Homo sapiens: one gene and its partners. The protein of the gene in region 2 interacts with the protein of the main gene of each other region in a biochemical or structural test. Each region holds a gene or a part of one and is shown on either strand. Other genes may lie near its edges.

Evidence for each region.
Region 1: the proteins of EGLN1 (region 2) and DLG1 interact in a test that uses a peptide from one of them, tested with the Homo sapiens proteins (one large-scale study listed by IntAct).
Region 3: the proteins of EGLN1 (region 2) and PDZRN4 interact in a test that uses a peptide from one of them, tested with the Homo sapiens proteins (one large-scale study listed by IntAct).
Region 4: the proteins of EGLN1 (region 2) and DVL3 interact in a test that uses a peptide from one of them, tested with the Homo sapiens proteins (one large-scale study listed by IntAct).
Region 5: the proteins of EGLN1 (region 2) and PLD1 form a complex in vitro, tested with the Homo sapiens proteins (one study listed by BioGRID).
Region 6: the proteins of EGLN1 (region 2) and ARHGEF12 interact in a test that uses a peptide from one of them, tested with the Homo sapiens proteins (one large-scale study listed by IntAct).
Region 7: the proteins of EGLN1 (region 2) and FRMPD1 interact in a test that uses a peptide from one of them, tested with the Homo sapiens proteins (one large-scale study listed by IntAct).

What each region holds. Positions count from the first base shown.
Region 1 is NC_000003.12:197,134,059-197,138,127, reverse strand, and holds part of DLG1 (disks large homolog 1), read left to right. Parts: intron 1-1,449; coding exon 1,450-1,586; intron 1,587-4,069. UniProt on the Homo sapiens protein: Essential multidomain scaffolding protein required for normal development. Recruits channels, receptors and signaling molecules to discrete plasma membrane domains in polarized cells.
Region 2 is NC_000001.11:231,373,308-231,377,376, forward strand, and holds part of EGLN1 (egl nine homolog 1), read right to left. Parts: intron 793-4,069; coding exon 673-792; intron 1-672. UniProt on the Homo sapiens protein: Cellular oxygen sensor that catalyzes, under normoxic conditions, the post-translational formation of 4-hydroxyproline in hypoxia-inducible factor (HIF) alpha proteins.
Region 3 is NC_000012.12:41,565,349-41,569,417, forward strand, and holds part of PDZRN4 (PDZ domain-containing RING finger protein 4), read left to right. Parts: intron 1-482; exon of another isoform or gene 483-958; intron 959-2,434; coding exon 2,435-2,551; intron 2,552-4,069.
Region 4 is NC_000003.12:184,161,675-184,165,743, reverse strand, and holds part of DVL3 (segment polarity protein dishevelled homolog DVL-3), read right to left. Parts: intron 2,088-4,069; coding exon 2,018-2,087; intron 1,478-2,017; coding exon 1,356-1,477; intron 1,253-1,355; coding exon 1,143-1,252; intron 949-1,142; coding exon 813-948; intron 632-812; coding exon 538-631; intron 323-537; coding exon 253-322; intron 1-252. UniProt on the Homo sapiens protein: Involved in the signal transduction pathway mediated by multiple Wnt genes.
Region 5 is NC_000003.12:171,803,742-171,807,810, reverse strand, and holds part of PLD1 (phospholipase D1), read left to right. Parts: intron 1-4,069. UniProt on the Homo sapiens protein: Function as phospholipase selective for phosphatidylcholine. Implicated as a critical step in numerous cellular pathways, including signal transduction, membrane trafficking, and the regulation of mitosis.
Region 6 is NC_000011.10:120,342,744-120,346,812, reverse strand, and holds part of ARHGEF12 (rho guanine nucleotide exchange factor 12), read right to left. Parts: intron 1-4,069. UniProt on the Homo sapiens protein: May play a role in the regulation of RhoA GTPase by guanine nucleotide-binding alpha-12 (GNA12) and alpha-13 (GNA13). Acts as guanine nucleotide exchange factor (GEF) for RhoA GTPase and may act as GTPase-activating protein (GAP) for GNA12 and GNA13.
Region 7 is NC_000009.12:37,741,342-37,745,410, forward strand, and holds part of FRMPD1 (FERM and PDZ domain-containing protein 1), read left to right. Parts: exon of another isoform or gene 1-11; intron 12-3,047; coding exon 3,048-4,069. UniProt on the Homo sapiens protein: Stabilizes membrane-bound GPSM1, and thereby promotes its interaction with GNAI1.

The DNA of each region.
Region 1 (4,069 bases), on a different chromosome or scaffold from region 2:
ATTAGTAATATTCTACAGAACTTGAGTGGATTTTAATTTCTCCGTTATTTCTACTGATTTTTGTCTTACGTAGCATTTTAGAATATTTACATTTCTACCAAGATTGCAGCATTTGAAAAGTTCCTTTTTTTGCGGGGTTTTTTTGTTTGTTTTTTTGAGGCAGGGTTTTGCCCTGTCACCCTGGCTGGAGTCCAGTGGTGCAGTCATGGCTTACTGCAGCCTCAGCCTCCTGAGCTCAAGCGATCCTCCCACCTCACCCTCCCAAGTAGCTTGGACTGCATGCACACACCACCACACTGGGCTGATTTTTTTTATTTTTTGTAGAGACGGAGGCCTCCCTGCATTGCCTAGGCTGGTCTCAAACTCCTGGGCTCAAGCAGTTCTCCCACCTCAGCCCCGCAGAGTGCTGGTATTACAAGTGTGAGCCACTGCACCTGGCCCAAAATTCTTACGTTTATTGATGTATGCTTTTATACATTTTACTGCAGTGAGCATATATATAAATTTATAAGTTTTTTATGATTTTTATATTCAATATTTGCTCAGCATGTTTTTAAGAGTTTTTAAAAGTAGGGAACAAAATATCTATTTGTTTTATAAGTGGATATGTCCCTATTTGTATTAAGTATTCTTATATTGAAGACTTCTAGCATTAAAAGAGTGAAATATTTGTGTCCTTGAACACTTTGAAGTTTAGTATTGCTATTAACTTGTGATAATCTACAAAATACTTTAAATGCAGGTACACAGGCTAAGTTAAAAGAAGAAGTGTTTATAATATGTATTATGAGCAGTTACATCTGCAGTAAAGGACTGTTAAGATGTGATTGCTGAATTTTTAAAACATTGATGGCTTGAGGATAAATGGAAATAGTAGTTTCAATATGTGGCTTCATGGAAGAGGGAGGATGTCAACAAATGAAAAAGGAATGGAGAGCTGAGAAATTATCTGATATTGAAGCTATGGGATTTAGGAATTACAGAAATTCCTTACTTAAAATTGTTAATTCATAGAATATTGAAGAAGAACAAAGGTATTCACATTTTTAAAGCCTGTTGGTTCTGCCCACCATCACCAGACAATGTTGTTATTTCTTCTCAATAATTTTGTTCTTGTGAAAATATTAAAAGTGTAGGTAAGCATAATTATGATGGAAACAAAAGTAAAACATAATTTCGCAATGTCACTTTGGAATAACAAGTGCATTTGCGAAAAGATACTAAGAAGGAACATGTGGGATAAAAGGAATCTATTCGTAACTCTAGGAGCAGCTGTATGTCTAAGTGTCCCTTGATTGCAGAACATATACTAGTAGATAACTAAATAGATTCTTTTCTATTTTAAAAAATATTAGTGTGAGGGAATAATTACCTTGTAGTTTTCAACCATTTCTTTCTGGGCTTAAGTTCATATTTATGGATGAGAATCTAGAACTGTTTTCCAAACAGGTCTTGGGTTTAGCATTGCTGGAGGTGTTGGAAATCAGCATATTCCTGGGGATAATAGCATCTATGTAACCAAAATAATTGAAGGAGGTGCAGCACATAAGGATGGCAAACTTCAGATTGGAGATAAACTTTTAGCAGTAAGTATAAGAAATCTATTGTCTTTTAAATCATTTTGTAGTCTGTTTATTTTTCTGATAGATACTGGAATTTCTCCATACCAAAAAGGTCTAAATGATGTTTAAATTAGCAAATACTAGCCTTGCTGTATCAAATCCTAAAAAATGATTCTTGGTAATTCTTTATTTGTCATTTCTCTTTTCTCTGCTAGCTCCTCCTCCCTTTTCCTTTTATTCCTTTGTTGTTGTTGAGGGCTTGTATGCACAGAGTGTTTCATCATAATCCTTAGGTTTATAAAACAATGTCATCATTTGTTTATGCATGACCCTTTTTTATTTTACTTCACTTAATAGTATAATGAAACCTAGTAATTACCCAGCCCAAGAATTAGAACATCAACCATTTTGTGTTTCTTATTCCTTTGCTTCTTAAAAATTGTTTAATCAGGCCGGGTGTGGTGGCTCACACCTGTCTGTAATCTTAGCACTTTGGGAGGCTGAGGTAGGTAGATTGCTTGAGCCCAGGAGTTTAAGACCAGCCTGGGCAGCATGGCAAAACCCTGTCTCTACAAAAAATACAGAAATTAACCAGACCTGGTGATATACACCTATAGTCCCAGCTCCTTGGGAGGCTGAGGTGAGAAGATCACCTGAGCCCAGGAGGTTGAGGTTACAGTGAGCTGTGATTGTCCCACTGCACTGCAGTCTGGGTGACAGAGTGAAAGCCCATCTCAAAAAAAAAAAAAGTTTAATTATATACATATGCCTAAATAATTTTGTTTAGTATTATTTGTTTTGAAGCTTTTTCAAAACACTATTGCACTGTATGAGACTTTCATCTCCAGTATTTTTTTCACTCAATATTGCTTTACTGAGACTTACCCATATCATTGCTTAGAGCTAAAGTTCATTCATTTTATCTCTACATACTATTCCACTGTATGTCTGTACTGCAATTTATTTGTCCAGTCTTCATCAGTGTATTAGTTTGTTTTCACACTGCTATGAAGAATTACCCGAGACTGGGTAATTTATAAAGGAAAGCGGTTTAATTGACTCACCAGACTCAGGAAACTTACAGTCATGGTGGAGGGTGGGGGAAAGCAAACACGCCCTTCTTCACATGCCAGCAGGAGAGAGACGTGCCAGCAGTGGAAATGCCAGATGCTTATAAAACAATCACATCTCATGAGACTCACTCACTATCAAGAGAACATCATGGGGAGCCACCTCCGTGATCTAATCACCTCCTACAAGGTCCCTCCCCCAACACATGGGGATTACAATTCAGGATGACATTTGGGTGGGGACACAGAGCCATACCATATCAATCAATAACTGTCTCAGTCCATGTTCCTTAGGGAAACGGAATCTGAAGAAAAGCTAAAGTGCTAAGGTATTATTTGGCTGTGTGATCTCAAGAAGGCTAGAGTGAGTAAAAATGAGGAGTGAAGCAGAGAATGAACGAGAGCCAATAGAAGGTAGAATGTGTCTGAGCTGGCTGTAATTTTATAAGGTAGCTTGTTGCTTGTCATGTATAACAGTCTTCTAGGCAGACACTGTAAAAACCATCCGGGCATCATAAACCTTACATCCAGCCATCCAGAGAAAAGAAAGAAAGGTTTATCTGCTGGCCCTTTTATTCTCCTGTCTCTTGTCTACCCCCTAGGGGTTATTTGTCCCAAGCTTTTGGATTGTGTTACCCAACTCCCCTGGGCGCAGTTTCTAGGGAAGCCAGCTCCTATACTCCATGGCACAACACTTCACCCAAGCCCAAAAATGGTAGAGTTGCAGTGGTATGACAGGTCAAACATAGGTTTGTGACATGTTATGGCCCTCACTGTGTGGAACACATCAGCCATGCCCAGTCCCAGCCAGAAGAGGCTCAGAAAACTGGGAAGGGCAGGAGACAAGATGAAAGTAGTATAATAGTCAGGACTCTCCACTGAGCAAGCAGCCAAGGCCTAGCAGAATCTGAAAAGGCACATAAACTGGATCTGGCATAGTAGGAAGTTGGTTTTTAAAAATATACTAGCAAGTACTGGTTTTTAAAAATCTATTTTAAGTCTTTTTTTTTTTTTTTTTTTTTTGGTATTATGAATAATTTTCCTGGGAAGAGCTGCTGTGTGTTCTGGTGAACATGTACAAGAATTTTACTTGACTGTCATGGGATTATTGATTATCCTACTAGTAGCATTCTTTTTAAAAACCATCCTGTTGTTTTCCAGGCTGCTTGTAAAAATTTACATCAGCAATATATAAAAGATTCCTTTGTTCTACATCCTGTTTAGTACTGTTTATTGTTGCAAGGAGACTTTTTTTAGTTAATGATGGCGAAAAGGAAAGAGCAGAACTTGAACTATGTTTCTCTAACTTATCCTTTCACAGCTAAGATCACCACTCTTTCCTCAAACTATAACCAGTACCATCTCACCATCACTCATCACTCACACACAAACACAGTCAAGACAGCCTTCTGTTGCACTAGTTTTCTCAGTTTTACT
Region 2 (4,069 bases):
AAATAATCCTTAACAATTATCCATAGATAATCTCCCCCAAAAGCCATTATAAAACAACTGTTCTCAGAAATGTTTTTCTAAAAACTATTAAAAGGAAAATATTTTAATAAAGGTCACCTTTCTAAAAAAGTTAGATTTTAGATAAGTGCTCTAACATCTGAAAATAAATGAATCCACTTTTTAAGATATATCAGTACTTTTTTATATGGTTTTGAGGTATAACTGATATACAAAAATGCATATCTTTAACATTTACAATTTGATGAGTTTGGATATATACGCACACCCTCATGACACACCACAACCAAGGTAATAAACATATCCATCACCTCTCAAAGTTCCGTTTCCCTTCCCCTAACCTCGTGTGTGCGTGTGTGTGTGTGTGTGTGTGTGTGTATGTGTGTGTGTTTAGAACACTGAACATGGAGTCTACCCTCTTAAATTTTTAAGTGCACAACACTACGTTGTTAACTACAGGTATCATGTTGTATAACATAGAGTAGTATTTGTTTCATTTTACAAAAATCCACTCCTAATACCTGAGACTGAAACAAATTTAAGAGGAAAATTTTTAACTGTGTCTGTGACAGTCTTATCAGAAGTATGAAACTTAATGCTTTTGAGAAAAAGACACCTGTAAGAAAAAAATAAATGCTCAATTAAGTTGCATACCTTGGCATCCCAGTCTTTATTAAGATAATATATACATGTCACACATCTTCCATCTCCATTTGGATTATCAACATGACGTACATAACCCGTTCCATTGCCCGGATAACAAGCAACCATGGCCTGTAATAATGATAATAATGATTATTAAAGTCCATGTATAAATAAAAAGAGAGAACAGCTAATAAATCAGATCTCTGATTTTTGGCTACTGATTTACACTTAGATTCTTCTAATAAAAATAATATTTTGTAGATAAGATAAGGCTATTCTACATTAACATTTATAGGGAACACAAGATAGGTTGATGAACAAGGACTGGTGAATTCTGCTTCACAGTGATAACTCCAAAGATCAGAAAAATTTCTTGGTCCTACTTTGACAATCTTTATAAATACAGATAATCAAGATCAAGTACGTTTTTGTCCTGCTCCATGGGAGATTTCAATCTTCCTTGAGCTCACCTCAGAACACCTACTTTACCATCTGATAGGTGAACCAACCCAGTCAACACCCCATCTGACACTGTCTCTGAATGGTACCAATTTTTTTTTTTTTTGAGACAGGGTCTGGCTCTGTTGCTCAGGTTCGAGTGCAGTGATGCAATCATGGCTCACTGCGGCCTCAACCTCCTGGGCTCAGGTGATTCTCCCACCTCAGCCTCCTAAGTAGCTAGGACTATAAGCACGTGTCACCAGGCTGGTTAATTTTTGTATTTTTTGTAGATATGGTGTCTTACTATGTTGTAATAGGGATAATTTAGGAGGTCAACTAAACTCCAAACATTAACTCATTTAGTGTCAGTGATTTTTTTTTAAAAAAAGGACTAAACAAATTAGCTTATGTTTACCCTCTTTCAATCAGAAAGAAAATTATTTGCTCAGATTATAACAAGATATGGTTCAGAAGACTGTTGGATGTTAAGCTTAAAGGTAGAAAAGAGGCCCAAAATAAAAAGCACAAAATAACTTCCATATTCTAGGTGTACATGATAATTAACTGAAATTGGTAATGGTATTTTTTAAAAAATTCTCAGGAATTATGAAGAAAACAAACAAAGACGTTCAAGGTTATGAGCTATTCTTGTTTTTGTTTGTTTTTTTACAGAGTCTTGCTCTGTTGACCAGGCTAGAGTGCAGTGGCACGATCTCAGCTCACTGCCTCCACCTTCCAGGTTCAAGCGATTCTCCTGCCTCGGCCTCCCGAGTAGCTGGGATTACAGGTGCATGCTGCCAGGCCCGGCTAATTTTTGTATTTTTAGTAGATACAGGGTTTCACCATGTTGGCCAAGCTGGTCTTAAACTCCTGACCTCAAGTGATCCTCCTGCCTCAGCCTCCCAAAGTGCTGGAATTACAGGCTTGAGCCACCACGCCACCCGGTTTGTTATGAGCTATTCTTGAAGTCCTTTATTTCTTCATATAATAAAGTCAATGAATTAGTATAAAGTTATCAAACAGTAACCGAATTGTTCTACTATCATATTAAAAGAAAAATGCTAATTTTTAAAACTCACTTCCCATCCCTAAGAAACTAAGAGGCATCTTAAACCTAAATCCTTATTTAAAAATCCTGTTTCCCTAGACACTCTGAATTCACTGCTCTTTATAAGCAGCAGAATTTTTGGAGAACATTATATATGTCTCTGTTTTTCCTGATTCCAGACAGACTTAACAAGTTCCTTCTTTCAGCACTGGAGGTTGGTAACAACCAGGAGTGTGGCATGGGCTTAGTGGGTTTAAGTGCTCAATAAATGATGAGCCCAAATGATTTTCTTGTCACTAGCTACCCAGGAAAGAAGTTTACCTTGAATAGTAACTGTAAGAGGGTACTAATTTAACAATGCAATTACTCCATTTGTGGTTAACTGAAGTAATTATGATGAATTACACAATATATTGTTATTCATGGGAAAGAAGGGGGAAACCTGAACTCTACATCTCAAAAAAGTTAATTTGGGCCTTTCCAACTATCTGGTAACTTCAGCATCTCTTGTGTAAAGAAGGAAGGGGAAAATATTTGTCAGTCACTCACCCCATCACATCCCATATATCCATTTAACAAATACCTCTTGAACATCGACTATGTATATGAAAGGCACTGGGGCTAAAACGATGAACCAAAGAGAAAAGGTCCCTTGCACTCATTTACATAGTCCCTCCTTATAAGAAGTTTTGCTTTCTGTGATTTCAGTTACCTTTGGTCAACTTAGTCCAAAAAATTTAATAGAAAATTCCAGAAATAAACAGTTTATAAATTGCACACCATTCTGAGTAGTGCACTGAAATACCTTGCAGTCCTGCCCCGTTTTGCCTGGGATGAATCATCCCTTTGTCCAGCATATCCACACTGTAGATGCTATCCACCCATTAGTCATTTAGTAGCCTTCTAGGTCATCAGAGCAATCGTCGTGGTACTTGTGTTCAAGGAAACCTTATTTTATTTAATAACAGCTCCAAAGTGCAAGAGTAGCGATGCTGGCATACTGTTATAATTGTCCTATTTTACTGTTGTTGTTAATCTCTTACTTTATAAATTAAGCTTTATTATAGGTATGTATGTACAGGAAAAAATATAGTATATTAGGATTTGGTACTATCCACAGTTTCAGGCATCCACTTGGTCTCGGAAGGTATTGCCCTCAGATAAGAGGGGACTATTGTACTATGAAATCTGGTCTAACAGCATAATTAGCCAATAAACAGATATATAATGTAATGTTAGGTAGTGAAAAGTTGTATTTTCTTAAGATATGAAAAAAATTAGGTATATAGAGAAAGATGACATGATATTCTTGAACAGTGGTTGACATTTGGGTTTAGACTTAAATGAAGGGAGCGGCAAGTTGGGCAAATCTCTGAAGAGAGAGCAATGTGGCAGAGGGAAAATGAGTGCTCAAAGGCTGAACAAGGCAGGAAAGAGCAGCAGGCCAGTGTGGCTGGAACACAGCGAGCACGGGCCAATGTGATCAGAGAGGAACCAGGTAACCTAGAGCTGCAGGGCTTGGTAAGCCACAGGAAGGCCTTTGGATATTGTGCTAAGAAGGGCCAGGAAGCCAACAGAGAATGTATCTGACTAATGTTTTGAGAATATCAGTTTCAAGTCTGTATGAATAAAAACAACCACAACAACCTCAATATCTCTTACCACCTAACATTTATGGGACATTTACTGTTTGCCATGTCCTATCTAAGTAATTTGTGCATAACAAGTTGTCTGACACAACCATGTGAGGTAAACAGTATCACTGTTCTCATCCTCATTCCTCTAAACTGAGGTTTAGAAAGGCTAATTAGTATTCGCAAAGTCACATGACAGGGAATCTGGTTCCAGAACCCATGGAATTAACCACTGTACTAGACTGCAGGAAGCAAAGAGTGAAAAGAGAAGACTAAGTTAGCT
Region 3 (4,069 bases), on a different chromosome or scaffold from region 2:
ACAGATTTCCAGAGAAATCAGGAAAAGAAATACATTTTAATACCATACTTTTAAAATGTAATTTAATCAGTACATGCTATAAAGTGGCAAAAAAAAAACTAAAAAAAAAAAATCTTGTCTTTATATCACCCATATTTTTCCATTGAACTCAATTTATCTCATTGTTGTATGTTTTTTTTTTGCGTGTGTATTTTATTCGGGGAGAATGTGGAAGCTTTTGTGTGCTTTTTCTAGCTTTTTTTAAACATTTTTAACGTTTCAAATACTCTCTAGATTCTTGGAAATGATCTACAGAGTTGCTGGGGGCAGTATTGTACATCTGTGCAATATTTTTAAATAACTCATTTTCCTCATTTCCTGTCAACTCTCTTTCATTTTCTGCCCATTTTCTTCCTGAGACCATTAAAGATATTGCTTTTCTGTCCTATTTCCCTCAGGACACTGGGGCAGAGAGGATTCTCATAAGAACTTGTAGCCACTACCTTTGAGACAGTGTAGGTTGTTCCTTTTTCTGAGATGCCACATGTGGCCCCCTTTGGTGCAGATAGATCCCCACTCTTAGTAGTAACAATCCCTCTTTTCCTGCAGCTCAGCTCAAGGGAGATGTCTGTCTCTGCCGTTACATTAGACTCAGACCATAGTGAATGTACATCTAGGTAGAAAGGGGGAAATAGGAGAGAAGAAGGAAGTGAGCAAGAAGAATCTCCCTTTGCTAATTGTGCTGTGTGCACCTCCAGCCTAAAAGAAAGCCTTATCAAAATAGACATATAATGACTATGGCTGGCAACTCAGGAATCTACTGGATTACTCAATAAGAAAAGAGTTATGGGGAATCATTAATTTTGACCATTTTCTCTTTATTTTCCCCACTACTTCATTTAATCCTCAAAGGACTCTGTTTCATCATTCAATATATCAGTGTTAGAAAATACTTTATTTTGACCTGATTAAAGAAAAATTCCTTGATGTGTTTGTGAATAGTAAGCACTCCCCATTTTAAGTAATTTTTTATGATGTCTGGCATTTGTAGCTTTATGATACTTGAAAAAGATTAAAGAATGTAAAATTTGAACAATTATAAATTGGGCTGAATTTACATTTTTACTTGGCATAATTTTCATAGCTCATCTGCATATCAAAGTCACAGGAATTTGATCAAATTATTCAGGCGACATTAAGATAAATGAGGATGAACAAATGTGCCAGCACTTTGGGCCCCAGTTAAGTTTGAGGTCATTTAAGTTCTACATGGCCTTTAATAGATATCATGAAATCTATGATTTGCCTGCATATTAATAAAGATGATACCTGTATGCTAATGCCTCTTTTGGTGCAGCTGAATGTCCTTTCCAGTTTGTTTTTAAGTTGTAGAAGTTCAGTTATGTTTAAAAGCTTATTTTGCCAGTTCATTGGTGGTGAAAATATCTCAAACTATTATCCATGTTTGCTCACTAGAATGCTATTTCTTTGTACAGGGTGATGCAGAGTTTTGACGATAATCCAGTTAATTTAATCAGCATAGACAGCTAATTTATGTAATCCAGCTCCAAAAATCCACTTTGAGGCAAATTATCTGTAGTAACTGTCAACACTGATCATATTAGATCATATTAGCCAGGTAACCACCAGTTTTCCACTTCACTTTGTATTGAAAAGCCGAAGGGATTTGTTCAGTTCAATTTGCATTAAGAGTCCTACAAGAATACTTGTTTTCAACACCCATAAACAAAACCCTGCATGCCCCACACCACTCCACCACCCTTAAATGTCGCATCCACTGAGGTGTTTTTCCTATAAAATTGGGCCTGAAAACAAATTAAAATAGACATGGAGTAATATTGCTTTTCTTTCCTTTCCTTGAGAAGAATAACTTAGAATTTTCCTTTCTTCACAGACAAAATAAATGTCTTCTGTACATTCTTTTGTGGCAAGCAGCCATCTTGTTGACATGGGAGCCCACCTAAAAAGAAAAAAGCAGGATGAGGATAGCACGAGCGTATGGGGGGAACTTTGTGTGCAGTCTCGTTGGGGGTTGTTGTTAAAGAAAACAGCCCAATTGTCTCATAGCCCAATTAGTAGCATGGCAGTCCTTTTAACACGGGACTGTTGGAGGTAATGAGCATGACAGCTGTGGATTATGCAGGATGCTTTTCATACATTTTGAAAGAAGGTAATATTCTGTGCTGTGAGATTTACTTGGTTATGAGAGAAAATCTGTAGTCCCATTTCAGGAAAGGATAAAAGGCATAAGAGTCCTTTTTTTTTTTTTTTATCACCTTTTCTTCTTTCTGAGAGGTGAACTGTGGGAGGCTGGTATTCTGAAGAGAATCATTATGATAAAAGGAACTCGTCGGGCACCGGCCATTTAAGTTTACTCTATTTTAACATGAGTTCTCACTAACATAATATAATGTACTAATGTATTCTTTTGCAGCTGGATGAAGGCTGGCTGGAAGATGAAAGGAATGAATTCTTAGAGGAGTTAAACTTGGAGATGTTGGAAGAAGAGCATAATGAAGCAATGCAGCCCACTGCCAATGAGGTGGAGCAGGTAGGGCCAACAATTTGAACTACATCATTTGATATGTTGCTTGTTCTTTTTTTAATGTGTAACCATAAATGAAGATGAAAACAAAATCAAAGGGTTTAATCCATCATCTCTATCATGGTAATTTTTTAGAGCAAATGATCATCTCAAATGAAGCAGAGGGAATAAATAAAATGTTTTTCCATTAAGAATATATCCAGTTTGGGAAGCTTGGGGACAATTGTTAATACAGTACAGTAGTATTCAAATGTTGACCCAGGCACTACTTCAAACTAATTGCAGAAATTTAAGAGTAAAAAATGTGTGTTGCTTATCAATATGCCAGCTGAAAACAAACTGAGGTAGCTTCCCCAATAAGTAATTTTTTTTACTCTAAAATATTAATGTATCTATTTGAATACTTAGGCTATCACTATAGGATGAAGATGACATGATGTAAGCCATCAGTTTTATTTGCGTACTGGATGGCGTGATTACACCTGTATATTCTGAATAATCGTAGAGATTATCCTTGGTCTTATGGCTGCTGTTGACACATTTCCCATAGTATAACTTGTGCAACATTTCTCATAGCATAGTTTGAGATTATTAACATCATTTTGCCTTGAAGTCACATATTCATTCAACTAAACACTTTGAACTCCTAATATGTTCCAAGTACCCCACTTGAAACTGAGAATAAAAAGAAAAATGAGCAGAACTGCTGTCCTTAATGGATTCATAACTAGTAAAAGATCACAGTGTGATTAGTATATTATTTTTATTGTCTTTTTCCCATTTTACAAAAACAAGTTCAATGTATTCTAGATTTTTTATGTTACACTCATGTCATTTATCTGCCTGATATAATTTTGTTTTCAGTTTACTGATTTGTTTAATTATCTTCCTATTCTCAACATTATTATATGTATTTTATTATATATATATATACGGAATCTTGCTCTGTCGCTCAGGCTGGAGTGCAGTGGCACAATCTCAGCTCACTGGAACCTCCGCCTCCCGGGTTCAATTGATTCTCCTGCCTCAGCCTCCTGAGTAGCTGGGATTACAGATGCCCACCACCATGCCCAGCTAATTTTTGTATTTTTAATAGAGACAGGGTTTCACCATGTTGGTCAGACTGGTCTTAAACTCTGACCTCGTGATCCACCTGCCTCGGCCTCCCAAAGTTCTGGGATTACAGGCATGAGCCACCGTGCCCTGTCTATTCTTATTATTATCATTATTATTATTATTATTTTAAGATAGAGTCTCACTCTGTCGCCCAGGCTGGAGTGCAGTGACACAATCTCAGCTCACTGCAACCTCTGCCTCCTGGGCTCAAGCGATTCTCCTGCCTCAGCCTCCTGAGTAGCTGGGACTATAAGTGCACGCCATCATGCTCAGCTAATTTTTGTATTTTTAGTACAGATGAGGTTTCACCATGTTGATCAGGCTGTTCTCGAACTCCTGACCTCAAGTGGTCCACCAGCCTCAGCTTCTTAAAGTGCTGGGATTACAGGATCCCACCACCACACCCAG
Region 4 (4,069 bases), on a different chromosome or scaffold from region 2:
GAGTGGGCACTCAGAAATCACTTCCTCCAGGAAGCCTTCCCTGATACCATTTTCTGCTTCCACAGCTCTCTGTGCTTATCTCTGTCATAGCCCTGATGGTGAGATACTAAAATGATCAGTTTATGTATCAGCTGATGTTTACGAAAGAGAGCTCCTTGAGGGCAGGGAACATATTCTACGCTCTCTGAACTCAAGTCTGCCCAGTGTCTGGCATATAGCAGGTGCTTGAGAGTGCTGTTTCCTCAGACTCACCCATGTTGAGAGTGACCGTGATGATGTTGAGTGACATGGTGGAGTCCGTGATGCTGCTGAAGGACGAGGACTGGAATAGACAGAGGCCCTGAGCAGCAGGTGGAGGTGGCAGGAATTCACTCCCACCTGACTCCTCCTCAAGGTGAGTCCCCGGTGCAGCCCCCAGCCCCAAGGTTCTCAACACTGCACTAGGGGGATGGGATCTAAGGAAGAACAAGCCTTGGCCCTGCGTAGGAAGGGCTCACAATCTGCCTCCACCCATCCCTAGCCTCCCAGACCCCATACCCGCTCAATCCGAGAAACCTTCTGCTTCCGCCGCCGCCGCTTGTGTCTTCTCATCAGGCGTGAGGCACTGCTCTGTTCTGTGGAGCTGCTGAACCTGTGGGGCCCACAGTCGTTCCCCACCAGGCTGGCCCAGCCCTGCCCCCATGAGGGGAGGCACTGCAGGGCCTGGGTCCCCAACACAAAGCCCATAAGCCTCCCAGGGGCCCCGCATCCTCAGGGTTTAGGGCTCCTCCAGGGTCACCTGCCCCACAATACCCATGAAACTCAAGCCCCACCTGCTGGTGGAGTCATCCTCATCTGAGTCAAAGAAGCTGGTGGTCTCCAGCTCACTGCTCATAAGGGTGGATGAGCTATCATAACCCCCTGGTTCTCGCCGCCGTTCCCCCTTCGCAGTTCCATTTAGCCGGGTTGCTGCAGGGGATGGAAGCAGTTGGGTTTACACAGTGCCCAGTGCAGGGGTGAAGGAGGGAGAGAGGCAAGCCAGGGGCTGCACTGGGGCCAGGCATATCCTGAGCTCGGGAAGTAGGGCAAGAAGGTGGGTAGCTGGGTGGAAAGTGAGGGGAGGGTGTGAGGTGCGGACAGTGTCCGTGTTCAGGAAGATATACCATGCTCTGGGCCATCCCTCCGGCGTGGCCGCTCTCGCTGGGCAGACACCAAAGAGTCCGTCTCTGTGTCATTGTCCAGGTTCTCCTGGCTGCCCCCACCAGCATGAGGGCTGCAGGGAAGAGACTTGATGGGGGAGGGGGCAGGCTGGGGGCTCCCTCCCCCAGCCCTGGGCTGAACTGATGCGGCCCTCCCCACCCTCAGGTCACACTCACTGGAAGGATGGGGGTCGGGAGTCCCCGATGCCTCCCGTGCGCTCCATAGGTGGTGGCAGCTCCGATGGGTTATCAGCACAGAAGGGGGCTGGGTCTGGGTGTGAGCCCTCAGCTGACACCAGCTGAAAGGGAGAAACTGAGTGAGTAGTATGTTACAGGAGCATCAAGGAGAAGGGGATAGTTCACTTCCAGCAAGGCATGAAGGCCTAAGAGGAAGGAAGCAGGAAATATCGAGGGAGAAAAGACAGGGCTGTGCGAGGGTGGCTGAGATGAACAGTGGCCCCTCTGCCACTTCCTGCTATTGACGGGGTTGTTGGAAGGCATGGGGTGGTGAAGTGGAATGGGGACAAAGAACAAGGCTCAGAGGTCTAAGGCAGAGATGAGCAGATGGCAGAAGGAAATCTGAGGCAAGTGTCTGAACGGCATAGGAAACGTTACTGTCTCCACTGTGTGTTTCCGTCTCTCCCTCTTCCCCCTTCCCACTAATTTCTCACTTTTCATCAAAGGTTACAGAATCTGGGGTGAGAAGCAGTTCATTTGCAAAACTAAAGAAAGATTCAGATACTGAAGCTTAAAACCACCAGCTACAATCTCAGTGATGCCTTTCCCTCGTCCAGCCCAGCACAGGGATGCAGGTGGATGGAAGGCTGAGGGCTCCTTACCCAGGACACCACCCGGCCATTGAAGCATGGTAGCTTGGCATTGTCATCCGAGATCTCCTCCTTCACCACTCTGCAGAGAAAGGGGGATGTCACAGAGAACCTTCTAGGGTGCAAATGGAGGATCCTCAAATCCCAACTCTCAGGGGCTCCTCCATCCTAAACTGGGAATCAAACCACCAGCACAAGACTGTTCAAATGAAAGCAGAGGTTGGGGAGACCCAGAGACAGCTCTTTGGCACCACCAGGAAGACACCAGCCCTGCCTAGGCCAGATACCTTCCCGGGGCATCCTCTCAGTCATCAGGTGATTGCAAATTACAACTGACACATCACTGTCCCCCATGCCACTCCCTAAAATCTCTAAAGTGCTCTACCCATCCCCAACATGACTCTCCTGGGCTAGACTTTCTCTTTCCCTCTGATCCCTAATTGGAAAAAAGCATACAATTATAACTGTCCTTCCTTTCTTAAGTGGGAATCCTAACATTGTTGTGGGAGGTATGGACAAAGAATTTAAGAAAATTAGAAAAGAGAAGGGGAGGCCAGGCGTGATAGCTCACACCTGTAATCCCAGAACTTTGAGAGGCTGAGGCAGGCAGATCACCCTGAGGTCAGGAGTACGAGACCAGCCTGGCTAACATGGCAAAACCCCATCTCTACTAAAAATACAAAAATTAGCCGGGTGTGGTGGTGTGCACCCATCTACTTGGGTGTCTTCCCATCTCTGTACTCCTGGCATATTTGACAGTCTGAGGGTCCTCAAACTTTTCCACTCCCCTTCCTAGCCCCAAACTGTAGTTACTGCCTGACTTCTTGCCTCACCACATTCCCCCGGCCAAACTACATGCCCCGTGACCACATTCCACACCCTTCATGCCTCACATCATTGTCCTCCAGCACCCACTCTCCACATAGACCCACGTTACCTCTGTTATTATATAGGAAAGAATGTGAAATACAGTGGAAAGAGTATGGATTTTGGAGTCAAGCCTGGGGTGAAATTCCAGCTCTGACATCTACCAGTCCTGTGATCCCAGCTACTTGGGAGGCTAAGGCAGGCGAATCACTTGAATCGGGCAGGTGGAGGTTGCAGTGAGCTGAGATCACGCCACTGTGCTCCAGCCTGGGCAACAGAGTGAGACTCCGTGTCAAAAAAAAAAAAAAAAAGAAAAGAAAAAGAAAAAGAGAAGGGGAGAAGGCATTTACTGAACATTTTCCACATGCCATTATGATAATTAACAGTAATAATTGCTCTTTCTCACGCTGGTAATCTCAGCACTTTGGGAGGCCAAGGCAGGAGGATCGCTTGAGGCCAGGAGTTTTGAGACCTGCCTGGTCAACATAGCGAGGTGCCGGCTCTACAAAACAAAACAAATACAAAAATTAGCCGAGCGTGGTAGCGTATGCCTGTGGTCCCAGCTACTTGGAAGGCTGAGGTGGGACGATCGCTTGAGCCTAGGAGTTCAAGGCTGCAGTGAGCTATCATTGTGCCACTGCACTCCAGCCTGGGTGACAGAGCAAGACCCTGTCTCAAAAAAAAAAAAAAAATTGCTGTCATTTATTGAGCATAAATGAGTATTATGGGCCAAGCACTATGCTAAACACTTTACTTATATAATTTCATTTAATACAACAATGCTATAAGGCAGCAGGTACAATGGGGAAACTAGGCTCAATAGGTTCAGTAATTCTCCTAAACTGCTGAAATTTGAATCCTGGTTAGCCTGACTCTAACATCTGCATTCTTACCATTACACCACCTTATCTTCCTATAGTTAGAACCTATAATCTTCACATCAGCCTCAGTGGGCAGACTATGATCTTCATTTCATGAATAAGGAAACTGAGATGTATTCAGTTAACTTGTCCAAGGTCACAGGACTGGTAGATGTCAGAGCTGGAATTTCACCCCAGGCTTGACTCCAAAATCCATACTCTTTCCACTGTATTTCACATTCTTTCCTATATAATAACAGAGGTAATGTGGGTCTATGTGGAGAGTGGGTGCTGGAGGACAATGATGTGAGGCATGAAGGGTGTGGAATGTGGTCAC
Region 5 (4,069 bases), on a different chromosome or scaffold from region 2:
TGTCTTTGCTATTGTGACTAGTGCTGTGGTGAACATATGAATTTGTGTGTGTTTTTGGTAGAACAACTTATTTTCTTTTGGATATATACCCAGTAATGGGGCTGCTGGGTTGAATGGTAGTTCCGTTTTGAGTTCTTTGAGAAATCTGCAACTGCTTTCCACAGTGACTGAACTAATTTACGTTCCAACCGACAGTGTATAAATGTTCTCTTACAGGATGTTTTTTTAAAAAATTTTTTTTCTCTTATAATTTCACTTTTGTTGTGGTAAAATATGTACAACATAAAATTTACCATTGTAGCCATTTTTAAGTGTACATGTAGTGGCATTAAATACATTCACATCGTTGTGCTACCGTCACCACCATCCATCCACAAGACTCTTCATCTTTCTTACAGGGTTTTAATAACATTTTAATGATAATGGTTGTGTTGCAGGCTTTAGTTTTATCACTAAGCAAGGTTTGAGTTCCTTCTCGTAGCTTTAGAGAAATGCACCTTTTAAACTTTTTTTTTTGAGACAGGGTCTCACTCTGTTGCCCAGGTTGGAGTGTAGTGGCACAACAGCCTTGACCTCCTAGGCTCAAGTGATACTCCCATCTCAGTTTCTGAGTAGCTGGAACTAGAGGTGCGCATCACCATCCTTGGCCAGTTTTGTTTGTATTTTTATAAAGATGGCGTCTCACTGTGTTGCTAGGGCTGGTCTTGAACAGCTGGGCTCCCGCAATCCTCCTACTTCGGCTTCCCAAAGTGCTGGATTACAGGCATGAGCTACCATACCCAGCTGAGAAATGCACTTTTAAAAGAGAAAAGGTAAAAAGCCATAGCCAGACTGTTTAACAAATCTTATCTACAGCAGGAAAGACCTAATACATTACTGTTTGAGGATAAGCTTGTGATGTATTTAAACTTGTGTCTAAGGGTATTGTGGGGTTTAGCTGTCAAGAGGAAGGAACACGTAAGGGAATTATTGTTATTGATCATTTCCTCTCCTGAGTATCTATCAGAAAAATAACAATTGTCAGTGTTGTCCTCTATAGCAGTGCAAATAGTACCTATCTAAACTATGCTTGAGCTCAGGTAGTGTTGCCTTTTTAGTAACTAAAAGCAGTGTGTAGCAATTTCCTGTCCATCCCAGATGTTTACTAAAGATTGATACTAGGGGACCCAACACATAAGATATGTCTCTTTAAACTTGTAGTTAGGCTGAGTCATTGTGTTCACAAGAAAAGCTGTAGCTCTGCAAGGTCTGGTTTTGTGTTTACAATCCTTTAAGTCTTAGCACCACAAAATAAAATGTATTTGCTAGGGTGTGGCTAAAAGTTGTTGCAGGGTTAAAATGAGAAACATGTAAACCTAACTTTCCCATAAGCCTGTGACATTTCTGATTACAAAGAGAATCATACAAATCGCATCTTATGCTTCAGTGGGAACACATTCCAGTGTGTTAGTTTCCCTAAATTCACAGTGCAGTGTAAAATCTGGACCCCAGCTGTTTTAGTGCTGGGTTATTAAGCAAAAGTGTATGTTACGTAAGTGTTTCATAGTGTCACAGTGTTTTTTTTCTGTTGTGAAACTTTCTTAATTTTTAAATTTATTGAGCAAACATTACAACGACAGAATAAAATGAATTATTTATTTAATAAACACTTACGTGGTGTTTACTTTGTGCCTTGCACTCATCTAAGCATTTTACAAACATGAATACATTTAACCCTCAGAACAACCCTGTAAAGTAGGTAATCTTATTATGGCCGTTTAATTTATTTATTTATGTTTGTTTTACTGTATTTTATTTTGTAGAGATGAGGTCTTGCTATGTCACCCAGGCTAGTTTCAGACTTCTGGGTTCAAGTGGTCCTCCTACCTTGGCTTCCAAACGTGCTGGGATTCACAGGCATGAGCCACTGAGCCTGGCCTATGCCCATTTTATAGATGAGGCAGTTTGAGGCATAGTGAGATCCCACAACTAGCACATGGTAGAGCTGGGGATCCATCCCAGGCAGCTTGCACCCAGAGTTTTGACACTGCTGTCTGTCTAGAAAAAAACATAACCTGTGATTCCATCCTCTTAACAAACTTTTTTTTAGGTTTTTTTATTTCCATTTCGTCCTTGTTCTTTGACATAATTGCAATTATAGTGCAACTCAGACAATCTGTTCAAGTCCTTTATTTTTCGGAAAACGAAATTAAGGTGGAGCATGGGTATGTCAAAGGGTAGAAGCACTGGGGCAGGGTCCTGGAGATCCTCTGCTGGGCCAGGCCTTAACTCCTGATTGTGAGGAGATTGGGCCAGGGATCCTGGGAGAGTCTGGGAGGCCAGGTGTATTTGGAAGGGGTTGGGTGTTATGTGCAATATTTCCAGAGGGAAGCATTTCAATATTTTAATAATTGTTATGACCATACTAGAGCTAATCTGCTAAATAAGGGCCCACATTATGGCCGACTGGGTCATGGCAGGTCTTGCTTCCTAGGGCTCCAGAATCCTGGATTGCTTCCCCCGTTGCTCCTAATGCCCGTGACCCTCAGCTCCCCTCTGGATGAGGGCAATATTTTATTCTGTACTCAATCATTTTTTGAACTTTTTGGATCTAGAGTTGGGAACCTTTTGGAAGCCTCTGACGCACAAAAGAAAACCAGCCAAAAGCAACATGGAAATAAAAATAACTTAGTTTAGTCAGTTCTTTTGTTAAGAAAGAGAGAGAGAGACTTCTGAGGCCATAAACTTATGAACTTTATATTAAGAACAGGAAAATAAGGGTTCAGAATTTAACAGTGATCTTTTTCAAAGTAGGCTTTTACAGATGGCACATTTAGATGAAGGAGAATAGGAATAAACATGGGGAAAAGGAAAGCCGTAGAAAGGGAGGGGAGAAACAAATGCAGAGACGAGGCATTGGCAGAGGGCCACAGATAGGAAGCAGGGAGCTAATACCTTTGTCAATTCTTTACAAAAAGCCTTGCATCTCAGTGTGTTACCACTGGATGATGCCTTCAAAATCTCATAAGCAGTTGGAGATGATCTTTCCTTTGGTTTATCTTGATGGGATCTTAATGTTTAAACTGTTGCTAATCAACAAAGCATGTGGACAATAAGATACAAGGGAACTCTTAGCCCCTGATTGGGATCTTCATAACAGTCTAGTCTAGTTTGGTTTATGCCACTTTCCATGGGTGGATTTTATATGTAGTGTGATATTAGAATCACTGGATTTGCCATTATTTTTTCTATTGTCTGTCTTCCGTGTGAGAGGGCAAGGTCCTTGAGGTCACAGACTGTGTTTTTGTCATTTTTGTGTCTCCAGTGTCCATTGTAGTGTACAATAGATGTGAACTGAATGAAAGGGTACATGGATGAAGGGAGAAGGTGTAATCCATTTTATTCAAAATACATAGGTATTTCCAGAAAATAAGTCTTTATAATTAACGTTTTACTTATTTATTTGCTCTATGGTGCCATTTAACTATTCTTAAAAATAAAATGTGTAGATGTAGAATGGACAGTCTGTGGCATTTTGGGTAAACAGCTGTACTCACTTCATTGATCTTTTTCTGCCCAATTTCTGATGAAGGAGTCCTTTGAAATAAAGAGTTTGAGTAGGTAGCCATGGGTTGGGATTGGAGATTTATGACTTGGAGCAGAAAAACATTTCCAGATGTGTAGGGCAGTGGTCCTCTGAAGATACAGACCCAAAAGTGAGAAATTTAACCAAAGGGGCTAAGAATAGGAAAAAAAAATGAAGATGATGTTTTAGATATTGTTTTTTAAATGTCACCATTATTCCTGCTTTGGAATAAAAAGAGGTAAGAGGTAAGGTAGGAGTACAGAATTTGGGGATGAAGTATATTTTTGGCACTAACATCACTGTGATGTTAAAACTATTTTTAAAAGATAATAAATACCCACACCTCTGACTTACTAATTATTTTACTAAATTTATTGCTCTCTATGCTATTTATGTTTATTATTTCTATATGGTGAAAATACTGTAACTATTGCACGTCTTCCCCAAACTGTATGTTCTAGTGATATCATGTTGGTAACTTGGAAGCGGCCATGATAGGAATTT
Region 6 (4,069 bases), on a different chromosome or scaffold from region 2:
AAACCAAGATTGTCCGTACATTAACTGCTGGAGTAATAAAGGGAACAAGGGAGGTTCATCATACCATTCTCTGTACTTCTGTTTATGTTTGAATTTCCCACTAAAAAAAAAGAAACTTTCATAGACTCCAAATAACCCATTTAACAAGCATTTACTGAACTTGTTGATGTAGACTATATTATTTATTGTTCCAAATTATTTAACCTCCACTTTCCTTAAGAGGATTATACAGCCTTATCTGTTATCATGCAACTTGCAATGCCACCTGTGGAAGGACTATACATCCTTACCCCACTGACAGTGAGCTCTGACCATATGACTTGCTTTGGCCACTGACATGTGAGCTGATGTGACATACAACATGACTGAGTGAAAGCTTTAAGAGCCATTGTATGTCTGCATCTGTTTTCTTGCTCTCTCCCTCATCCACAATAATGGCACAGCCCAGACAGGGGATGCTCCTTGAGCCAGGGTTCCAAAATAAGAAACGTGAAGCAATGCTGCAGTCAATCCACAGCTGACAAGGTGTAGCATAAGCAAGAAGAAAAGCAGTGTTGTAAGCCACTGAAATTTGATAGTGTTGCTACAGCAGCATAACCTAGCAAAAGAAGACAGATACACTTATTATGGAGTAGGTGCAAAAAATAAAATTATAGGCTGGTATATATTTTTAAATGTTTCAGAAGATAAACCAAAAAAATTAACTATTGTTACCTATGAGGAGAAGGTATGAAAACTAACAGGTGTGTAGGAATACTTTTTTTTATACCATTTTATATGATTTGAATTTTCTGTGTGTGTATGCGTGTGTGCGTTTAACCTGAGCAGCAACATCTGGGTAGTTGGATCATTTGGGCCATTTATTTTTCTTCCTTCTGCTTTTCAGTATTAAAAAATAAAAATATAATAAGGCTACCGATAATTACTTAAAAATGAATAAGAACTATTCTTATACCCTTGAAGAACTCACGTATTAGCTAACAATTTAGCTTTAAATAAAGCCTTCCCCCATTCATTGTTAATTTTTTTAACGTCCAAGGCTAAATACTGTATATATATATATATTTAGGAGTATGACATACGCCATTTCGTTTTTTTTTTTTTTTTTTTTGAGACGGAGTCTCGCTCTGTGCCCAGGCTGGAGTGCAGTGGCGCGATCTCGGCTCACTGCAAGCTCCACCTCCTGGGTTCATGCCATTCTCCTGCCTCAGCCTCCCCAGCAGCTGGGACTACAGGCACCCGCCACCACACTCGGCTAATTTTTTCTATTTTTAGCAGAGACGGGGTTTCACCGTGTTAGCCAGAATGGTCTTGATCTCCTGACCTCCTGAACCGCCCACCTCGGTCTCCCAAAGTGCTGGGATTACAGGCGTGAGCCACTACGCCCGGCCTGTTATATGCATTTCTATCAGTTTGCTCACTTTCAGGTTTCAGCAAAGCAATATAGTGTTTTGTATATGGATGGTACAGTTACTAATCTCAAAGGAAATTCTCACAATTTCATTATTTTAGTATGCCAGTTAAATTGGCAAAGAGGTTTGCTCTAGTTACAGTTGTTCAAGGGAGAGAATACAGTCATGGGTTCTTAGTTTCTGTTTCTGGATGGGCCAGTAAAGCCCCTTCCTCATCCCTCTTTCCGTTTTATCACTAGAGACAGAAACTAAAAACCATGGCTTCAGGCTGCTGAAAGCCTAAAACAAAACAAAACAGAAGAACAACAGCAAAATAAGGCAGGTTGGACAAGCTTGCTAGGTGTTAAGTTTGGTAAATATGCCTTAACCAGTACTAGAGCAAGGAATCTATTAAGGAAACTCTTCTAGGGTAAAATCATAAAGGAGCATTGAAAGAAAGGAAAAAAAGGGGAAAAATTCTAATCATGACTCTTGTGGTGATAAAACAACACTTGAATGGTTACAGAAATCAAGTTTAATAGAGTAACACTTTACTACATGAACAAGTTTTAACTTCAAGAGAGCAATATCTGAACATAGCAGTAACCTGCAAATGACTAAGAACATGTCTGTACTTTTCATCCTAAGATCTCAAAGCACTTCACAAACATTCATTTAACTCTCATATCACCTGAGAAGTAGTGATATAATAATACATCATTATAACCATCTATCCTGCCAATACAAAATATTTAAATACCTCTTCAGCAGCACTTGCCCTAAGAAGGTCTTGCTAAACAGCCAATAAAACAGGAAATAGGCTGACAGTGCATATGCCACCAACAATCTCTGAAAAGATCAGACCTTCACCCACAAGAACCACTTCCTCTCAGTAAACCACAGAGACTGTACTGGGCAAACCACAACATATCGGCTTGTGTCTGGAACATAGGCAGATAACCCATCTAAAATCTATGGAAGGGTATGTCTAAGCACCTTCACAGGATTTCTTGTGTTAGCAAGTGTATTTGGGGTATCTGTTACTCTTCTGGATAACATATAGCCACTTTCTGCATTACAAGATCAATTTCAGGTATCATTCCTTCAGAGGCTGATGAAGTCTCCAGTTTTTTTTTTTTTTTTTTTTTTTTTTTTTGAGACGGAGTCTTGCTCTGTCATCCAGGTAGGAGTGCAGTGGTGCAATCTTGGCTAACTGCAACCTCCGCCTCCCGGGTTCAAGTGATTCTCCTGTCTTAGCCTCCCGAGTAGCTGGGATTACAGGCATGTGCCACCTGGTCCGGCTCATTTTTGTATTTTTAATAGAGACAGGGTTTCACCATGCTGACCAGGCTAGTCTTGAACTCTTGACCTCAAGTGATCCGCCCACCTCAGCCTTCCAAAGTGCTGGGATTTACAGGCATGAGCCACCGCGCCTGGCCAGTTTTTCTACAACAAAATAATCTACATTTTTTTGAATCCATAAAAGATCTACAAAGTCCTCTTTGATCTTTTGAGTATATGAATGTAAAATCAACATTTATATGTAATATTTGACAAAAACTGTAGTATCAGAGTGTACCTTTAAATGACTCTAATGTGTTATATAACACCAAAAGAAAAAGCAGTGTGACAAGCAGCTAATTGAAAGCATTAACTAAAACCAGGCTCTCTTATATAGTTCCAATTTCTGCATGAATTGTTACTTGCAGTCCAAGACAGGAAACCTACTTTTCATTGGCCAGTAGATTTGCTTGTCTCTAGACACTGAGAAGCCACCCAGGCCTGTCATGTGACTGTGATCTCAAAAACCAGGACTCAGCATTTGAATTAGTAAAAGATCCTGTTTCGGTATGAATCTAAACTGCATTGGTGCATGCTAATTCAAGAGGTAAAGTTAGTGTATTTTTTCTTTTACTAAAAGTCGACACTATATACTCATGCAATTTAGGCACAGCCTCTGACCAGGCACTAGCTTCATAGGCTTCTATTGGAGTTAGAAGCTGTCTTATAGCGGTCTTCCCTATATGACTATCTTGATGATTCCAGATATTCTAAGTTGAAAAAGTAAAATGCTCTAAATTTGGCATGTTTGCAAATTTTAGTATTACCAAAATACAAAATATTAATATTAGCAAAATACAAAACAAGGACATCTATCTCAATAATTTGAAACTAAAATAGTACTAAAGAAAATATGCTAATAAAGTATTCAAAAGGTCTACAGTCTTACAGATTTTATAATAATCTAAATATGCACTTTTTCTGTTACACTGTCTTGTCATTAACAATTCTTGTAAATACAACAGCAAGAAAGTAAAATATTTCAATTTTCACAATATCCATTTTACTGAAAAAAAAAATACTGCTAAGCATTGTTATTTCACTAACATGTGGAAATAAGAGGAGACAAAACAATAAGGTAAAAATAAACCAAACATCGAGGAATGTTTTGACCTACAATTTAAGATAACGAACTGAAAAACCACTGGAAAAAATAAGAAACAACTTCCTGATGTATTTCATCATATTGCAACAAGATGATTTTCCATCAAAGGTGGCTAACATTATTTCTATACCCTACCCTTTTGTCATAGAATTGATAACATTTGTTACATTGAGGGTACTCATATTTGAAAGAATCGCTTTGTAAAAAAGCCTTTTAGAACATGAGTAATTGC
Region 7 (4,069 bases), on a different chromosome or scaffold from region 2:
GACATCAGAAGGTAGGGGATCTGGTGGCTGTGTTTCTATCAGGTTCCTCATACATTCCTCCACCGAGAGTGTGGAGGGTCTTTCCAAGCAGAACTGAGATCCTGGCAGGACACACACACACACACACACACACACACACACACACACACACTGCATTCTGAAGGAAACATATTGGAAAAGAGCACATGGATGTTGAAGGTGACCTGCCAGGAGCTGGGAGAGCTGCAGCCCTTGTTCCTGTCTCGGCACTTTCCTGCTGCTCTCTGATCCTCTATTCCCAGACCTCCTGTGCTCTCCCACTGTTCTGGAGAGAAAGGCCAGCTCCTCTGGGAGCCCCATCAGGCCCTTTGAGGCCCTCTGTGACATGGCCTCTGCCTGTCTCTCTCCCTCCTCCTGCATTCCTGCCATACAGACCTCCTTGCCACTTTCTACAAGTGCCTGTTTTTTCCCCCTCCTCCAGCCTTTGCACATGCTGCTCTTTCTGACCGAAACACTCCTCCCCAGATCGTGGCTGATGGTGCCCATCCGTCTATCAGATTCCGGTTGGAATTCACTTCCTCAGAGAACATTTCCCAGGCTTCCCAGGCCAGGGCAAGTCTCCCCATCTCTGTCACATGTTCTTGCATTACCTGGGGCTCTCCCTGTCTGGCACCTCGCACAGCCTGTAAATTACATATTTACTTGTATGATTCTGTGTTGATGTTTCTCTCCATCACTAGACCGAGAACTCCTTTGAGCGTTAGAACTGTGTGTTTCTCACTGTGTCCCCAGCACACAGCGTCTAGCAATTGTTGTTAAATGAATGAATGAAGTCTCCACCATCTACACTGAGTTCAATTGACTGTACCTCTAAGGAAAGGAGAAACCATGGCCAGACTCCTTACTGCTCCCCAAAGTACCCAGACAACCACTTTCCATGCCCCAGCCTTGCCCTGCAGGGCCAGCCATTGTGCCGGGGGGCAGGATGGAAGTGTGGCAGAAACCATCAGTCAGGGCCCTTTTATGGGAGTCTAGTCAGGAACATATGGGGTTCATACCAGACACTGTTTTGTTTTTGTTTTTGTTTTTTATAGGGAGCCAGTGTAGTGCTGAGAAAAGAGCCAGAACTAGGATTCCTCAGCCTGGGTTCTGATTTGGCCCCTGACTGACTATTGGAGCCTCTTTGTCTTTGGGACTTAGAAACTCCTTGGTCGGTGGCTGTCAGTAGCCTAGGGCAGTCAAATGTGACTGGGCATCAGAATCACCTGAGGGACCTTGTTTAAAAACTATAGATTTGGCCGGGCGCAGTGGTTCACACTTGTAATCCCAGCACTTTGGGAGGCAGAAGCAGGCAGATCACCTGAGGTTGGGAGTTTGAGACTAGCCTGGCCAACATGGCAAAACCCCATCTTTACTAAAAGTACAAAAATTAGCCAGGCATGGTGGCGTGCACCTGTAATCCCAGCTACCCAGGAGGCTGAGGTAGGAGAATCACTGGAACCTGGGAGGCAGAGGCTGCAGTGAGCCGAGATTGCACCACTGAACTCTAGCCTGGCCAACAGAGCAAGATTCTGTCTCAAAAAACAAAAAACAAAAAAACCTAAACCTTATAGATCCCTAGGCCCTAGCCTCAGAGATTCTGACTCCTCAGAGATTGTGGGGAGCAGCCTAGGACTTGATAAGGTTTCTAATAGCATACAGCCAGGTTAGAAATGACTGGTCTGACTACCCAAGCTCTCTGATTCTCAAGTGCTAGGCTCTGATCCTAATTCCTTCTGGCTGATTCCCAAGGGTTCTTTACAATAGTGCCTCTCCTCCCAGAAAGATCCATCCTGGGATGCACAAAACTCGATGCCTGTGACAGAGTTGTGGCCCCTTTACATTCAGACATGAAATGGCAATAACGAGCAGCTTCCTTTTAGTGAATACCTAATGAGGCAGAGGCCTTGTGCTGGGTGCTTTATAAAAATGCACTAATTCCTTTAACCTGCACGGCAGCACTGAATGGCACCATTGGCACTAAAAGACTTGGGTTAACATCAGCACAAAGAAAAAGTGTTAGGAAGTAAGATTGTTTATAGAATTGCTGGCAAGCCTGAAGACCTGGGTTCAGAAATAGACAGCAACCAGGCTAAGAGTCTAGTCACAGGATTCCCTACCTGTATTATCAAGCTATTGTGGTTGGAAAGAATGGCTCTGCTTTTTTTTTTTTTTTTTTTTTTTTTTTTTTTTTTTTTTTAATGTCTTTGGGTTTGGAATTCTGGAGAATTTGTAGCTGATTGGCTGGCGTGGACAGAGCATCTTCGTGAACAGTTCCAGCAGACTCTAACCATTGGGGAGATGTCATTCCCTAAACAGAAGTTGAGATGCTGTGACCAAAAGATAATTAAATGGATCTTAGGCATCCAAAAATTTAATAATGTCTATCACAGCTGGGTGCAGTGGCTCAATCCTATAATCCAAGCACCTTGGGAGGCTGAGGTGGGAGGATTGCTTGAACTCAGGAGTTCAAGGCTGCTGTGAGCCGTCACACCACTGCACTATAGCCTGGGGGACAGAGTGAGACCCTGTCTCAAAAAAAAAGAAAAAAAAAAGTCGGCCAGGCGCGGTGGCTCATGCCTGTAATCCCAGGCCTAGGTAGGCGGATCATTTGAGGTCAGGAGTTCGAGACCACCCTGACCAATATGGTGAAACCCCATCTCTACTAAAAATACAAAAATTAGCTGGGCATGGTGGCAGATGCCTGTAATCTCAGCTACTCCGGGGGGATGAGGCAGGAGAATTGCTTGAACCTGGGAGGCAGAGGTTGCAGTGAGCCGAGATCACGCCACTGCACTCCAGCCTGGGTGACAGAAAGAGACTCCGTCTCAAAAAAATAAAAAAAAATCTGTCACAATTATTATCCCCATCTTTCAGATGAGGAAGTTGAGGAGATCAGGATTGAACTTGCTCAAGGTTACACAGCCTAGCCAGAATTTAAACCCAGGAAAGCCCAAGGCCTGAGCCCAAGCTCTATTAACCTCTTTTTTTTGTGCTTTTTAATGTATTTTTTCTTTCCTGACTCCCAGGGCCCAGAGATGTTTCTACTGCAGAACCCAGTGCCACAAGCTTGCAGAATAAGGCCAGCACTTCTAGCCCTGAGAACAGCCTGCCTTGTGGGCCAGATGGAAGACAGCCAAGCAGGAGGGGAGGGGTGAAGAAATATGCCAAGACCCTGAGGAAAAGAAGGTCTTTCCTACAGACCGACTACACCTCTCAGGTCTCATTTCCCCTGGTGCCATCAGCCTCCCTGGAGAGTGTAGACGACGTGTGCTACTATGACAGGGAGCCCTACCTGGCCCTTGGTGCACCCTCCCCAACTGTGTCCTCTCTGCAGGACATGCAGGGTGAGCCTGGCCTTCTGGAGACCAAGGCCTTGGGGCTGCTGGCTCCTCTGAGGGAGACCAAGAGCACAAACCCAGCCTCCAGGGTCATGGAGATGGAGCCCGAGACCATGGAAACCAAATCAGTCATCGACTCTCGAGTGTCTTCTATTTCTGCCATTCGCTTCCGGATTGACCCCAACAATAAAGAGAATTCTGGTGTTGTCCCTGCTGCCAGCTCCTCAGCAAGCACTCCTCACTGTTCTAACCCAGGTTCATCTGGCCCAGATACTGCTCAGGCAAGGCCTTCCCAAATCTTACCTCTATCTCAAGACCTGGATGGGATTGCCCCCAAAGAACCAACCATAGAGCATGGAGACAGCTCCTTCTCCCTCTCCAGTGGTGACCCTAACCCAGACAGAGCCTGCCTGGCCAGCAACCCAGGACTAAATAATGTCTCTCAAGGAGACACACTAGAGCTCCAGTTGGAGCCCCATGTCCAGTTGGAAATGGGATTGGAATCTTTTTGTACAAATCATATACAAGAAACTGCCCCCAAATACACAGAGCCTTTGTTGTCTCCTAGAGATGAGCCTAGAAGTGATGAATGTGGAATAAATCCAGGAGAGAAGATAGCTTCTATCCCTACAAAGGAAGAGCCACAAGGACAACTATCTCTGGAAAGAGACAGAGAAGTTACAAACAAAAATGGCACCAACGTATTTCAG